4 linked regions of the Homo sapiens genome follow. The protein of the gene in region 1 purifies or fractionates together with the protein of each later gene. This does not show direct contact. Each region holds a gene or a part of one and is shown in the gene's direction. Other genes may lie near its edges.

Evidence for each region.
Region 2: the proteins of ZFP69B (region 1) and ACOT1 purify together in Homo sapiens (affinity purification with mass spectrometry; one large-scale study listed by BioGRID and IntAct). This does not show direct contact.
Region 3: the proteins of ZFP69B (region 1) and KCTD16 purify together in Homo sapiens (affinity purification with mass spectrometry; one large-scale study listed by BioGRID and IntAct). This does not show direct contact.
Region 4: the proteins of ZFP69B (region 1) and UGT1A10 purify together in Homo sapiens (affinity purification with mass spectrometry; one large-scale study listed by BioGRID and IntAct). This does not show direct contact.

What each region holds. Positions count from the first base shown.
Region 1 is NC_000001.11:40,449,043-40,453,275, forward strand, and holds the start of ZFP69B (zinc finger protein 69 homolog B), read left to right. Parts: upstream 1-1,433; 5' UTR 1,434-1,919; coding exon 1,920-2,046; intron 2,047-4,233. UniProt on the Homo sapiens protein: May be involved in transcriptional regulation. Essential for Golgi structural integrity.
Region 2 is NC_000014.9:73,535,790-73,539,942, forward strand, and holds the start of ACOT1 (acyl-coenzyme A thioesterase 1), read left to right. Parts: upstream 1-1,353; 5' UTR 1,354-1,632; coding exon 1,633-2,089; intron 2,090-4,153. UniProt on the Homo sapiens protein: Catalyzes the hydrolysis of acyl-CoAs into free fatty acids and coenzyme A (CoASH), regulating their respective intracellular levels. More active towards saturated and unsaturated long chain fatty acyl-CoAs (C12-C20).
Region 3 is NC_000005.10:144,169,589-144,173,672, forward strand, and holds the start of KCTD16 (BTB/POZ domain-containing protein KCTD16), read left to right. Parts: upstream 1-1,284; 5' UTR 1,285-1,421; intron 1,422-4,084. Other genes in the region: protein YIPF5, read right to left, coding at 258-367. UniProt on the Homo sapiens protein: Auxiliary subunit of GABA-B receptors that determine the pharmacology and kinetics of the receptor response. Increases agonist potency and markedly alter the G-protein signaling of the receptors by accelerating onset and promoting desensitization.
Region 4 is NC_000002.12:233,639,448-233,642,947, forward strand, and holds part of UGT1A10 (UDP-glucuronosyltransferase 1A10 precursor), read left to right. Parts: intron 1-3,500.

The sequences.
Region 1 (4,233 bases):
GCAGTCCAGCCCTGCGGACAGTGCGAGACTCCATCTCAAAAAAACAAACAAACAAACAAACAAAAAACCGGAAATTTATTTTCTCAGTGTGGAGACTAGAAGCCCCAAGTAAGGTCGAGTTGGGTTCGTTTCTGACTAGGACTATATTCTAACCTTAATTACTTCCATAAAGGCCTTATCTCTAAATACTCTCCAAATACAATGGAGGTTAGGGCTTCAAGATAAATTTTGGGGAATCCAAACATTCGGTTCATAACAGCTAGCAAGTACTATAATTGTATTCTATTTCCTCATTTGTTGTTTTTGTAAACTGTTGATGTAGAAATGTATTTGGAGTGATGTACTCAAATTTTGTTGGAGGGAGAAAACTCAGCAATAAAACAGCATTACAGTATAATCGCTTTTGTGGAAAATATATAACAATGCATGAAATACGTTGTGTGTGTGCAGGAAAGGTTGTACACCAACTGTTAGCAAGGTTACCGCTGCTTGCTGAAATTACAGGCAATAATTTTTTTGTTTTTGTGTATTTTCTGGCATTTCAGAAATACAAGGTAAGCAATAAACATGAGAACTTTTATTGAATACTAGAAGAGAAAACTGTTGTGGTATTCTTTTAACAATATACCGGAATCCATTCAACTGTCTGCTGAGAATAAATAACTGGCATGTACATAATATTTAGGGAAAGTGCTATGGATTATTTTACACCAGTGTCGTTTCACCAAAAAACGTGATGCCGATGGCTCCCTTTTGTCACGGGTTTCAAAGGCTCACCCTAACGTTCACGTGCATTTTCCCAGCGGAGGAAAGATGGTTGTTCTTCATCAGAGTCTGGGGCCCAAGAACGCAGGCTCCATCTCCTCCCGCAGGAGCCAGGCTGATGATGCTCGCAGGGATCGGATACTGGGAGCCCCTGAACGCAGCCAACCCGGCGCGCACCGGTGGGGGCGTCTGCGCTGGCGGAGCGGCTCCCCGGGAGGACGCTGGGAACCATGCTCTAGCCAGCCGCTGCGCAGGCGCACTGGGCCCCGACTGCCCGCCGCAGCGCTACGTGGGAGCTTGGCCGCGCAGTGCCGGAACCCGGCTGCAGCGGTGGGAAGGCGGGGGCGTGCCGGCCCAGCGGGGAGAGGGTGAGCGGGTGGCTGTCCCGGGCTTGGGGAGCTGGGCGAGCCGGGAAGCGCGAGTTCCGCCCGCGGCCACCCTGTCGCGCGCGGTGCTCTCCGCAGCCCCGGAGTCGTGCTCAGACAAAGGCTGGGAGGCTAGGGCCGGGGGCGTTTTGCTTTGTGGGGAGGACTTAGCCTCTCATTTGGGGAGGAGGAGGCGGGGTCTAGCGGTTTCGCGGTTTGCTACAGCCGACTAGTGAAAGAGCTGGGATTCCAAATCCCCGGCTACTTTACACATAATTACTGCCCCAAACAAAGAATTGGGTTGTATTCGTCTCTTTGTGCTTCCTGACATGTGCGCGGTGCTTTGAATTTTGTGGGCTGTGTCTGCCCACCGTCTCCGTGTATCTTTTGGAAACATTTTACAGTGATCCATATATGTTCTAGCGTTCTGCCCTATGACTGAGCCTCCTTAGTCCTTTGCTGATTCTAATGTCTTCTGCTCAGCATCTGCAGGGGCTGCTGAGAGTAAATACTTGGCGCCTCCAGCTGCTGGCCAAGGAGACAGATGGAGCTCAAGTTGGGAGATACGCCCTGAGAGCCGATGATAGACACAAGTCCAGATCTCGGATTTTGATACTGTATGTTCCCTGGGTTCCTGAGAGAGGACATTGAGGAGTAGGAGTCGGCGATTAAGGAGATCGGTACAATTGGGAAGCCTCCTGTCAGAGCTTCCAGCAATTTCCTCATCAGAGGTGGACAAGCCCTATGGGCTAAGACAGAGGGTCCTCAGAAAGGAGTGCGGACGCCGTCATGCTGCAGCAGCTCCTGATCACCCTGCCCACCGAGGCCAGCACCTGGGTGAAGTTGCGTCATCCAAAGGCGGCCACGGAGCGGGTGGCCCTGTGGGAGGATGTGACTAAGATGTTTAAAGCAGAAGGTAAGAATAAACTGATGGGTGGGAGGGAGGAAAAGCAGTCCCCTCTAGTGTGAGAAGGAATGAGTCACTTGAGTGGAAGCATCTCTTAGGGAGACGAGTGGGTGGAGGGTTTCCGGAGTTGTTGATTGTGGCTCCTAGTCTGGGGTTTTCCTAAGTAGTGGTGGTCTTTTCAGCCTAGGACCAGTATTTCAGTGTCATGGTTATGTATATTATTTATTTTCATCTTTCCCATGGCCATGTGGGGCAGGATGGACTTAACCTGATTTTTCTTATTCTAACAGTGGGGAAATGTAAATCAAATGGGAGGCCTGCCCAGGGTCACACAGGAACTTGGTGGCTAGGTCAGAAAGAGAAGCAGCAGGGGAAGTACCAGGTGAGCCTGGAGTAACTTGTGCTAGAAAGCAAGGAAGAGCTTAAAGACTATGGATATGTGTCAAAAGAGGCCAGGTTTAAGGGTCTCTCACTCGACAGATTTGGGAAAGCTTAAGTATCCAAACTGATGGTAACACCTTGAATAAGTAAAATTCCACATGATCACCTTGACACTTAAAATAGAGAAAGACGTGGGGGGGGGGGAATTCATTTGCAAACATTGGAGGTAATTAATACACTGATTCCTTACTTTGAAAAATAGGTTATTATGGGAATGAATGTGCATTTACCTTGCCTTTTAGATCCTCTTCAGTTGGTGAGGGAAAGCTTTTTACAGAAAATGCGTGCCAATAATGAAGGTAGAAAGAGGCCAGGTGTGGTGGCTCATGCCTGTAATCCCAGCAATTTGGGAAGCCAAGGTGGGCGGATTGCTTGAGACCAGGAGTTTGAGGTCAGCAGTTTGAGACCAGCCTGGCCAACATGATGAAACCCCATCTCTGCTAAAAATACAAAAATTAGCTGGGCGTGGTGGCACATGCCTGTAATCCCAGCTACTCGGGAGGTTGAGGCACGAGAATCGCTTGAACTAGGAAAGGGGAGGTTTCAGTGAGCTGAGATGGCGCCACTGCACTCCAGGCTGGGTGACAGAGCAAGACCTTGTCTCAAAAATAAATAAATAAATAAATAAATGTAGAAAGAATGATAGAATCTTTTACCGTAAATAAAATAATTGAAAGGTTAATGGGGAACAGATACTCACATGATATCAAAGTATTATCCCCTCAAATTACTTACTAAATGGCAAGGAATGAACATAATTTTCCAATAGTGAGGTGTGGTGGTCACAGTTTTAATCAAATGTCTCAGTAATGGGATAGCCGGGCATTTTATACTTTGCAGATACTGTAATATAAAGCACCTGGTACCACCTACAAGGTATTCCTACCAAAAATGTTGAACATGATCCTAAATTAAGTTTAAAGACTGAACTGCTGGTTTACAGAAAATACAGGGGATGGAGAAATGAGATAAACCTCACATTGAGGATACAGTCAGACTGTTCTTGTATCTTAAAAAGACAACATCATGAAGAAAGGGGAAGTACTTATTCTAGAGTAAAAGAGACTAGAGGTAACAACCACTTTGAATGTGTGAGCCTTGATTAACTCCTGGTTTGGAAAAAATCCAGAATAAAAGTTGAGGAAACAGTTGAGGAAATCTGAATATGGACTGAATATTTAGATGATACTATGGAATTATTGTTAATTTTCATAGATTTAATAAATAGTACTGTGGTTGTACAAGAGAAGATCCTTATTTGAAATATTTAGGGATAAAGTATTATGATGCAGACGACTTTGAAGTGCTTCAGAAAAAATGTAGATAGGTAAAGCAAATATGGTAAATATTAACAATTGTTGAATCTAGATGTGGATGTATAGATGTTCAATATTCATGATAAAAAGTTGGAATAAAATACAAAGACAGTTATTCATGTGCCTTAATTCCTAGTGGTTTTTTTTTTTTTTTTTTCCTGTCACCCAAGCCGGAGTTCAATGGCTCGATCTTGGCTTATTGCAACCTCTGCCTCCCGGGTTCAAGTGATTCTCCTGCCTCAGCCTCCCAAGTAGCTGGGATTACAGGCGCCTGCCACCACGCCCAGCTAATTTTTGTATTTTTAGTAGAGACGGTGTTTTACTATCTTGGCCAGGCTGGTCTCCAACTCCTGACCTCGTGATCCACCCACCTCAGCCTCCCAAAGTGCTGGGATTACAGGCTTGAGCCACCGGGCCTGGCCTGTAGTGCATATTTTTA
Region 2 (4,153 bases), on another chromosome or scaffold:
TTAGAGACAGGGTCTTATCCAGGTTGGTCTGAAACTCCTGGCCTTAAGAAACCCTGCCACCTCAGCCTCCAAGTAAACTGGGATTATAGGCGTGAGCCACCTCACCCAACTTCCACTTCCCAGCTGTATGATCTTCAGAAAATCAGTTAAATTCTCTGGGCCTTAATTTACTACTACGGTTCTTGTAAGTATTAACAATTAGCTACTATTATTTACCTTCTTTAGTTCCTGAGACTTCTATGCACAGAATATACTTGATGTGTGCCACAGAACCTATACAAAGGTAATTACAACTAACAGGGAGTTGTATGATAATGACATGGGACATGGGACATGAGAGCATTTGGAAAGAGATAAAAAGGCTTACCTTGAGGACAGCCTTATTAGGAGCAGAGGCAAACACAGGTTTTGTGAGTTTGAAGCTTACGCATTTATAGGTTTCTCTAATTACCAAGATAGGAAATTATGAAATCAGGTACAAGGGCTTGGGAGGGGCCTAAAGCTTAAGTTTGATGAAAAAAAAAAACCACCTCTGGTTGGAACCAATAGCCTATGAAAAAGTAGAAAAAAGCCCAATGCATGGGGAGCGCCGGTAGTCCCTTGAGGTGTTTGAGAGGCTGAGGCAGGAAGATGGCTTTAGCCCAGGAGTTTGAGGCTTGTAAGTGCGCAGTGATGGTAAACCGCCGCTGTACTCCAGACTGGCAACGTAGTGAGACCCTGTCTCTTTAAAAAAAAAAAAAAAAAAAAAAAAAGATGAGAGGTAACACTTGCCTGACTGGGACAAAAATGAGAAACCAGTATAAGAAAATAATAACTATTGGCCGGGCGCGGTGGCTCATCGCCTGTAAATCCCAGCACTTTGGGAGGCCGAGGCGGGCGGATCACAAAGTCAGGAGTTCGAGAAATTAATAACTATTACCTCATTTGGCTATTTTTACACCTGTAAGGAATAAAGCTCAGAGGTCACACAGCTAGTAAGAAGCCAGCACCCTTCGATGTGGGAGTGATGTGGAGGATAGGCATATACAGAGAACACGAAAGCAAAACACCATGGTGCAGATTTTGAAAGAAAAGCCCTAAGATTAGTAATGAGTGTGAATTATTCAACAAAGTGATCAAAACCAACTCCAGTCCTGCATTCCTCTTCGCCATCAGGAGTTTGGAGCCTGGAGACTGCTAGCTGCCTGGTTGTTGTTGTTTTTTTTTTTTTCTGAGACGGACTTTCGCTCTGTCGCCCAGGCTGTAGTGCAGTGGCATGATCTTGGCCAACTGCAAGCTCCACCCCCCGGGATCACGCCATTCTCCTGCCTCAGCCTCCCGAGTAGCCGGGACGAACCAGTCCTGGCCCAGCCCATTCCGCGAGCCAGCAAGCTTCTGAAAAGCAAACCTAGGAAGTTGCTTTCCAACATAAAGTGGAGGTTTCAACACAGGAGACTTTAAGCAAGTTCCAGTGTGTCTATATTTGGTCTGGCTGATCGGCTGGACTCTGGCCTTCCCCGCTCACATTAGCAGACAGCTCTGCCCTAGTGGGCGTTTAGCCTGCGACGGCAGCCCGAGAGGAAGAGTTGGGCAGAGTTGCAGGGGTCTCCACAGCTGAGGCAGTTTGGCCGGATTATTTGGGTTCCTGCTCGGATGGCGGCGACGCTGATCCTGGAGCCCGCGGGCCGCTGCTGCTGGGACGAACCGGTGCGAATCGCCGTGCGCGGCCTAGCCCCGGAGCAGCCGGTCACGCTGCGCGCGTCCCTGCGCGACGAGAAGGGCGCGCTTTTCCAGGCCCACGCGCGCTACCGCGCCGACACCCTTGGCGAGCTGGACCTGGAGCGCGCGCCCGCGCTGGGCGGCAGCTTCGCGGGGCTTGAGCCCATGGGGCTGCTCTGGGCCTTGGAGCCCGAGAAACCCTTGGTGCGGCTGGTGAAGCGCGACGTGCGAACGCCCTTGGCCGTGGAGCTGGAGGTGCTGGATGGCCACGACCCCGACCCCGGGCGGCTGCTGTGCCGGGTGCGGCACGAGCGCTACTTCCTCCCGCCCGGGGTGCGGCGCGAGCCGGTGCGCGCGGGCCGGGTGCGAGGCACGCTCTTCCTGCCGCCAGGTGACTCACCTCCGCTAATTGTTCCCCTCTGCCCATCCCTGTTCCTGCGCTTTCCACTGTGTGTGTGTGTGTGTCCCCTTCGCCCCGCCCCGCTCTTTTCGCTTGTGTGTGTGTCCCTCCTCCCGCCCCACCACCACCACCCCGGGCTATGTTGCCCAGGTAGGTCTTGAACTCCTGGACCCAAGCTATCCTCCCGCCTCTGCCTCCCCAAGAGCTAGGATTGCAGGGTGAGCCACTGCGCCCGGCCCTTTGAGGGGAGTTACACTTATTTTTTTATTTTTATTTTTTTTCGTCCCTGCGCTTTTCATACGGAGAAAGGATGTAGCTTCCAACATTCCGGAGGTTAGTGTAAGGAGACAGGAATGGAATGGAAAGTTGGTTGGGGAATTGCCCCTGCCGCTCCAAAACTGAGAGGTCCCTCAAACCTAGTGCTCAGTTAAAAGACATTGTAAGGGCTGGGCGCGCTGGCTCACGCCTGTAATCCCAGCACTTTGAGAAGCCGAGGCGGGCGGATCACGACGTCAGGAGATCAAGGCCATCCTGGCTAACACGGTGAAAACTCGTCTCTACTAAAAATACAAAAAATTAGCCGGGCGTGGTAGCGGGCGCCTGTCGTCCCAGCTACTCGGGACGCTGAGGCAGAAGAATGGCATGAACCCAGGAGGCGGAGTTTGCAGTGAGCCAAGATCGTGCCACGCACTCCAGCCTGGGCAATAGAGTGAGACTCCGTCTCAAAAAAAAAAAAAAAAAAAGGCATTGTAAGGAAAGAGAAAAGACACATAATATTAAAAACAAACAAAACAAAACAAAAAAAACAGGCCGGACGCGGTGGCTAACACCTGTAATCCTAGCACTTTGGGAGGCCGAGGCAGGCGGATCAAGAGTTCGAGACCAGCCTGGCCAACATGGTGAAACCCCGTCTCTACTAAAAATACAAAAATTAGCCAGGTGAGGTGGTGCACACCTGTAGTCCCACCTACTCGGGAGTCTGAGGCAGGAGAATCGCTGGAACCCTGGAGGCAGAGGTTGCAGTGAGCCGAGATCACGCCATTGTACTCCAGCCTGGGGGACAAGAGTGAAACTCCATCTAAAACAAAAACAAAAACAAAAAACAAACAACAACAACAAAAAATTTTCAAGTAGTTTCAATGTTCTTATTTATGTATGGACCAGGAAGTCACTTTTTTTTTTAATAAAAAGAATTCCAACTGGTTTTCTCACTGTATTTCCATGGCAGCTAGGAGGTGCCAGGTGGCTGGGCCTGTGACAGTGCAGAGGTTTTGGTGCCTGCCCGCCCACCATTGCTCCAGCTGCAGCTGCTGCCCCCTGCAGGGCCTGTTCGTTCCTGCTGCCTAGCTCCCTGCTGGCTGGCTATGATCTCCGTCCTGTTACCATTCCAGGAGAGCAGCCACCTCCCTGTGCATGGCAGGACCAGGTACTGATTGTGGCCTCTCCTCTTGGCCTCGAATGGTATCCTTGTCATCAGTGAGCAAGTCCCCAAAGACCACGGTCTTGTCCATTGTCAGGATAATTCACTCCACAAGCTGGGACTCCAGGTGCTGCTCTACCCAGCGGTGCTTCTCACCCACACAGTGGTCATACTTTGGCAGGGGCTGGTGCAGTGTGAAGACCTCGGTGTTTTGCATGTGCTTCATCTCTTGCAAGGCCCTCTGGGGTTGGGCTTCAAGACTAGGGAAAAGCCTAGGGCTTCACACCCATGGGCCACTTTATCCACCAGGTCCGGCAGCAGGGTGAGGTACTGCTTCCAGACCAGGAAGCTGCGGTGCTGCTGCAGTGTCACATGCAGCTCCCTGAGAAGCGGCGGCTGAAGCCCCACAGGATGCCGTCTGGAAGCTGCCAGCACGCGGTCCCTGTCCATCAGCACACGCGTGGGCTGTGCTCATCGCTGCCGGGGCACTGGGGTTTCTCGGGATCCTAGGGGTATGGGGCCCAGAAATGTTCTTTAAAAGTTTCTCATTTTTGCAACTTTTCTTTCAATTCACACAGTATGTTAAGGTTTATGTAAATTAGCATTTACAATAGGAAAGCCTCTTCCTGTCAAAT
Region 3 (4,084 bases), on another chromosome or scaffold:
CAGTTCTTCAAACAAGCTACTTTTCCATTCATGGTACACCTGAAGAGTTTGCAGAAGACACTCAACTCTTAAATAGAACAATACCTTCGAAGCCAAGCCAGTGTCACATATCTCTCTAGAGGAAGAAGATTATGCATGAAAGATCATACTCCTGATAAAGGACATGTTCACATATTGTTTTAGGCAGAACCAAATATTCTAAATATGTGTTTTCACTGCAATGTAGACTAAATTAATTGCCAAAGATGAAAAGTTACTTGCTATAGGGTCCTCCACTTCCTCCATAATCATAGGACTGCTGTGACTGATCATCGATGCTGTAACTTGTCTGGTAGAAATCCGTGTTTAAGTTTTCAAAGCCTGACATTGCAAATAATCTGTAATAAAAGAGAAATGGCAAATATTCCTTATGCCCAAGGTTCTACTGAATTCGTTCCTGGCAGTCTGCTTAAGCAAATAGAAACACAACAAATATTTTTTCAGTAATTCGGAGAGGGGATGGGGGCGGAAAGTACGCAGCATTTGAACGACGGTAGCGGAGAGAGAGTAAGAAAATGTATATTCTTTTAAGTTGCGGCCCAGTAAGACAACTCCACCTTAAAGAGCTGATATGCCTTCCATTAGGGGCGAGGTCGTGGGAGTTGTGGTTCCATAAGCGGTCTAAAATATCAATAACAACAAAGATGATTTTTCACCTTAGGACTGGGCTTTACAGCTGACAAGGCGACTGCTTCCTTGCAAAATAAGGCCTGCGGCCTGCCAGGAAAAAGTGCAGAATCTGGAAGGTCGCGCCTGAGGTGCAGGGGACCGCGTCAGGGCAAGGGCTTGAATGAGAGCGAGGGTCTGAGCGAAAGGACCAGGGCGCGGCGCCGAAAGACGGCAACAAGCCCATTTGCACGGGTGTGGAGAGAAGCTGAACACTGTGCCACGGGCCTGGGTCACTCACCAAACTCTGAGGCTGCGCTGGCGGCAAAGGCAGTAGCTTCACTAATCCCAAACAACCCCCAAACTCTGTTTCAGACCCTGAACCAGCCCCGTTGCTACGTGTCACAGGGCCAAAGAACGGCTTCCGGGGCACGCCCGCTCGCGCAGGCGTGTTAGCAGGTTGGGCACCGGTGGGCGGGAGGAGGAGACACGAGTATGGAGCTTGCGCAGTATCTACCCAACCTGCGGCTGGCCCGTGCCAAAGAGGAAAGTGCTTCCGGCAGCCTGGTTAGGGGTGGAACCAGGAAAGCGCAGGCGTAGCAATTGCTGCTTACTCGTAGGTAGGAGGAGGAGTTTCTCAGACCTAGGTGATGGAGGAAGACTGGGAGGCGCTAAAATGAGACAGACGGAGTCCCCTCTCCTGTCCACAAACTACAATGCCTACAATGCCTCGGTGTCAGCATTTACTGTGATTCAAGCACTGTGCTAAAGTGTTTGTATGTATTATTTAATCTTTACAACCTAATGAGATGGTTACCCTATTTCCCTTTTGTAAGTGAAGCTATTAAGTATTCATTCATTCTGTGCTAGCTGCTGGGGATACTGTGGTAAATATAAGCTAGGTGACATCTACCCACCTGGAGTTGGTGGTGGAGAGGGGTAATCGAACACATACAAATGCATGTGAAATTGCTACTAATATTCTTTAGTGTTCCATAATTCTTTGAAAGAGTAACATTCATCTGGGAAGAAGAGTCTGTAAAGCCACTATAAGAGGGTTATCAAAGGGTGAGTGGGAGTTAGAGAAGACCAGAAAAGAGAAGAAAGGGCAACGGGAAAGGAGGATAAGGGAAAATAGCCTGAATATTTTAGGCAAAGAGAACAATGTGTGCAAGATCTGGGAAGCATGGTCTGAGGAAAGATGAAAATCGAGCTCTGAACTTCAGCATTATTAACATTTTGAGTCAGGATGTTTCTTTATTGGGGGCTGCCCTGTGCATGATGCTTAGCAGTAGCATCCCTAATCTCTAGCCATTAGATGCCAGTACTCCCCCCAACCAACCACCACCACCATCACCACCAAGTTGTGACAGCTAAAAATCTCTCCAGACATTGCCAAATCCAAATGTCCTTGGGGGCGGTGGGGGCAACATTAGCTGAATTTGTCAACCACTCTTCTAAGTGGAACCTGAGTGACTGGAACAGCAAGTGAGGGGAGCCACATAGGAGTTGAGGCTGGAATAACAGGAAGGGGCCAGGAAATATCCTGTGGGATTTGTGTGTTGGTTCTAAAAGAAGTGAAGATTGTGAACTGATGAGTGATGTTTAAATTGTTTTCTTTTGAAAATGATTGCTTTGGCTCCTGTGTTAAATCACTTTCCCAAGATGGTGGAATCCCGAATATTGTGACTCGAAATAAGATGCTATTAACTAATGAGCAGAACTTTCTTCAGGGTTTATAGCAATAAAATTTATCATGAGCCACTGCATTATATTCTGGGATCAAAATCCTGAGGCCCTCACAAAAGAAGCCAGACCATTGTTGGGGACTAGTTTCCAAAGGAACAATAAAATTTCACTTAAAACTTTTCTCTCAACACCCCCCACCCCAATAAAACAAACAGAAAACGCACTCCCCTCCAAACAAAAATAGCAACAACAAAAGGATGTAAGACCCAACCAAAAAACCTAGGATTGTACTCTAGAGACCAACAGGCAGCTGCCCTTTGAGGTTTTTACCCATTAGCGAATTTATTTGTTTTATTTTTGTGGATACATCATAGTTGTACATATTTATGAGATAAATGTGACATTTTGATACAAGCATACAATGTGTAATAATGAAATCTGGGTAATTGAGATATATCTGTCGCCTCAGACATTTGTCATTGCTTTGTGTAGAGAAAATTATAAATCTACTCCTAGTTATTTTGAACTATACAATAAATTATTGTTAACTATAGCTACCCTATTTTGCCACTGAACACTAGATTTTTGTGCTTTCTAACTATATTTTTGAATTTCTGAAATTGCTCATTCAAGTGTTCACCACCTTTCATCAATCATTTTAGCATTTATTGGTTTAGGTATCATCTGCACAACTTCAGGTAGAATGACCACATATTATGATTTGCTGGAGACAATTCCATTGTCCCATTTTCTGCCTATTTTTACTTACCCTCAGCATAATTATTAATGTTGCTCCCTTTTACTCTCAAAAATATCCTAATTCAGTTGATAAACTTTGTGATTGTACTTTCTTTAAGCTACATTATCCATGAAGCTGTGTTTCGAGTCATCAATAAGATGCAATAATCCATCATTATCTATTTAATTAATCTTATGGTTAAAAAAATTCTAGTCTCTTTTGTTTTTTTCTGATGTTTCTATTTCTTCTGAATCAAAAAGGATATCCCTTTCAAATTTGAATGAGCTACAAGAATATGAGCATTAAAAATTGCTGATTTAGATGCTGGCGAGGTTTTAGAGAAAAAGGAATGCGTATACACTGTTAGTGAGAGTGTAAATTAGTTCAGCCATTATGGAGGACAGTGTGGCGAATCCTCAAAGACCTAAAGACAGAAATACCATTCGACCCAGCAATCCCATTACTGGGAATACACCCAAAAGGATATAAATCAGTCTATCATAACTACGCATGCATGTGTATGTTCATTGCAGCACTATTCACAGTAGCAAAGACATGGAAGCAACTTAAATGTCCATCCATCATAGACTGGATAAAGAAAATGTGACACATATACACCATGAAATATTATACAGCCATAAAAAGTAGAATGAGGTAATGTCCTTTGCAGGGACATAGATGGAGCTGCAGGACATTATCCTTAGCAAACTAATGCAGGAACAGAAAACCAGATACCACATATTCTCCTTATAAGTATGAGCTAAATAATGAGAACACATGGACACATAGAGGGGAGCAACACACAGTGGGGCATATTGGAGGGAGGAGGGAGAGAATCAGGAAAAATAACTAATAGATACTAGGCTTAATACCTGGGTGATGAAATAATCTGTACAACAAACCCCCATGATACAAGTTTATCTATGTAACAAACCTGCACCTGTACCCCTGAACTTAAAATTTAAAAAATTTGCCTGTTTAGGAATGAATTATTAGATATAGATATTATTC
Region 4 (3,500 bases), on another chromosome or scaffold:
ATTGCTCTTTCCTTGTTTCAGATGCCAGGATGTGTCTGGGAAAAGCATGCAGTTGGTTACATCTTGCTGGGAAACAGGATTCAGAGTCTGAGTCTCATCTGTCTGATGAGAAGGAAGCATTACTTGATGATAGAGTATGTGTTTGCACATGTATGTGTTTGTGTATGTGCAGGTGTGTTTGCGTGCAGTGTCCCAGACCCTGCACAGGGGATTTCTTGAAGATCTCCTGTAACAAAATCTCCTTGAGTCTATCCAGGAGAATTACAGCCAGGGATGTAATTAAATACTTTAACAATGATGGCAGATGGCCCCATCTCCAATTTCAACATGGGATTTGGAGGGGACAAACTTTTAAACTATATCAATTGGTATGGTCATTCTTTTACATTTCAGTATTCTAATGTGTGTGTGTTGATTAGTGATGTGTAAATAATTCAGCAGAACATTGAAATAGTTTTAATGAGAAAAAGAGGAAGTCACTCTTAGTCTCTTTGAATTTTTGGTGAGTTCCAACAGAATTGATGACTGGTTTTAGGGGAAAAGAATTCAGGCTTCATCTATACCATCCATGGTAGGTGCAGCTCTGCAGACCTGGGGATAGGATGTGGTTACAGAGCAAGAAAAGATCTGTGCTTTCCCCATTGCTCTAAGATTCTGGCTATAGTCCAAGATCCAAATTCAAAGTTAACTTTTGGTTGACAAGACTAAGGCCTCCCACTAAAATTGTTTACTTCAAGTATTTATTTTCAAAGTTTTCAAACATACAAAATGAAAAGACTATAGTGTAATGTGCACCTGTATATCAATCCTTAGGCTAAATAATTTTCAGTGTTTTGCTGTATTAATTCATCTATCCCCTTATTCTGACCTTTTAAAGAAACTTTTTGGCTGTCATTTTTTTAGTGGAAATTCTTGGCTTGTCATTCCATCATTGAATATTTTATTAAATATAAAAAATAAGTAAAATTTGTTACACGGCCACAATATCGTTATCACACCTAACACAATAATAATACTTTAATATTATCTCATTTCTAGCCCATAATTAATTTACCTCCAATTGCCTCATACAACATCTTTTTATGTTGATCTATGGAACAGAGAATTCAGAAATAAACCCATACATCCTTGGTCAATTGAGTAAGTTCCAAATTTTATGAGGGTGTCAAGACCATTCAAATGGGAGAGAACAGTCTCTTTTTTAGGCTGCAAATGCTGTTCTTCCATAGTCCAACAGTGACCCTCCCCAATTTAGGGGCCAACCCAGGGATCTAGGTCCATGTAACCTCCTGATAGGCCAACAATCTTAGGTAGGGCCAACTCTATACCCTTGGTCAGTAGGAAGCAGTTGGAAGATGAGACCTTCACTCACATGCCAAAGATTTGTCATTGTTGCTATGTCAGGGGGGAAATGTGGAGCCCTAATTAGGGAAAAAGAGCTAGGCTGGCAGGACCAGGGGAAAGCAAAAAAGAAAAAGCAGATGAACTATAAGTCTCCCTTTCTTCATGGTCTAGGACACATAGCCCTCCTGCAAAAATAACATAATCTTCCTGCACCCAGCGATCACCAGACCCTCAGCTGATAGAAAAATGCAAGTTATCTCACTGCAACCTTGGCATTATCAATACTGCATCTAGCTCTCTGCAGCACAAGCACCATCCTATAAAATCCTCAGCAAGCCTTTGTCTCCTTGCAGCCAGCTCTTCTCTTGCTGACTATCTTGCAACATATTTTCCTACTTTCTCTAATAAATCTGCCTTTCTTTACCTACAAGTATCTTGGTAAATTCTTTTTACCTCCCATGCCACACCAGTCTCAGAGAGTTGCCACCCATGACAGTTACCATAAGGCTTGCAAATACTATCTTATAAACCTTATTTTAACCTGATAACAACTTAACACTATTTGCATAAACAAACACACAGCAAGAAGAAAACTAATAGAAACTAGTCTTAACTTTGCTCCCTACTTTTTAACTCTTTGTGATTTTCATTTATATCTTGTTGTACTGCCTATATCTTAAAAAGTTGTTTAGTTATTATTTTTGATTTGTTCATTGTTTAGTCTTTATATGTAGGATAACAGTAGTTTGCACACACAGTTACAATGTTATAATATTCTGTGTATTTCTGTGTACTTACTATTACCAGTGAGTTTTGTACCTTCAGATGATTTCTTCTTGCTCATGAGCTTCCTTTTCTTTCTGATTGAAGTACTCCCTGTAGCATTTCTTGTAGGATCGGTCTGGAATTGATAAAATTCCTCAACTTTTGTCTTGGAAAGTCTTTATTTCTCCTTCCTGTTTGAAGGATATTTTCACCAGATATACTATTCTGGGGTAAAAGGTTTTTTTTTCTTCAGCACTTTAAATATGTCATGCCACTCTCTCCTGGCCTGTAAGGGTTCCACTGAAAAGGCTGCTGCCAGATGTATTGGAACTCCATTGTTTGTTATTTATCTCTTCTCTTGCTGCTTTTAGAATCTTTTCTTTATCCTTGACCTTTGGGAGTTTGATTATTAAATGCCTTGAGGTAGTTTTCTTTGGGTTAAATGTGCTTGGTGTTCTCTAGCCTTCTCATACTTGAATATAGGTATCTTTCTCTAGGTTTGGAAAGTTTTCTGTTATTATCCCTTTGAATAAACTTTCTACTCCTATCTCTTTCTCTACCTCCACTTTATGGGCAATAACTATTAGATTTGCCCCTTTGAGGCTATTTTCTAGATCCTATAAGCATGCTTCATTGTTGTTTATTCTTTTTTCTTTTGTCTCCTCTGACCATGTATTTTCAAATGGCCTGTCTTCAAGCTCAGTAATTATTTCTTGTGTTTGGTCCATTCTGCTATTAAAGGACTTTGATGCATTCTTCATTATGCCGATTGCATTTTTCAGCTCCAGAATTTCTGCTTGATTCTTTCTAATGATTTCAATCTCTTTGTTAAATTTATATGCTGGAATTCTGAATTCCTCCTCTGTGTTATTTGGAATTTCTTTGAGTTTCCTCAACACAGCTATTTTGAATTCTCTGTCTGAAAGGTCGCTTATATCTGTTTCTCCAGCGTTAGTCCCTGGCACCTTATTTAATTCATTTGATGAGGTCATGGTTTTCCTGAATGGCGTTGATGCTAGCAGACATTCTTCAGTGTCTGGGCATTGAAGAGTTAGGTGTTTATTGTAGTCTTCATTGTCTGGGCTTATTTGTAGCCGTCCTTCTTGGAAAGGCTTTCCAGATATTTGAAAGGACTTAGGTGTTGTAATCTAAGCTGTTTCTGCTTTAGGGGGCACCCCAAGCCTAGTAACGCTGTGGTTCTTGCAGACTTGTAGATGTATTGCCTTGATGGTCTTGGACAAGATCCAAGATACTTCTCTGGATTCCAGCACATACTCTTGCTTTCTTCCCTTACTTCCTCCCAAAAATACAGAGTCTCTCTCTCTCTCTCACTCTCTCTCTCTCTCTCTGTCTCTCTCTCTGTTCTGAGCCACCTCAAGCTGGGGGTGGAG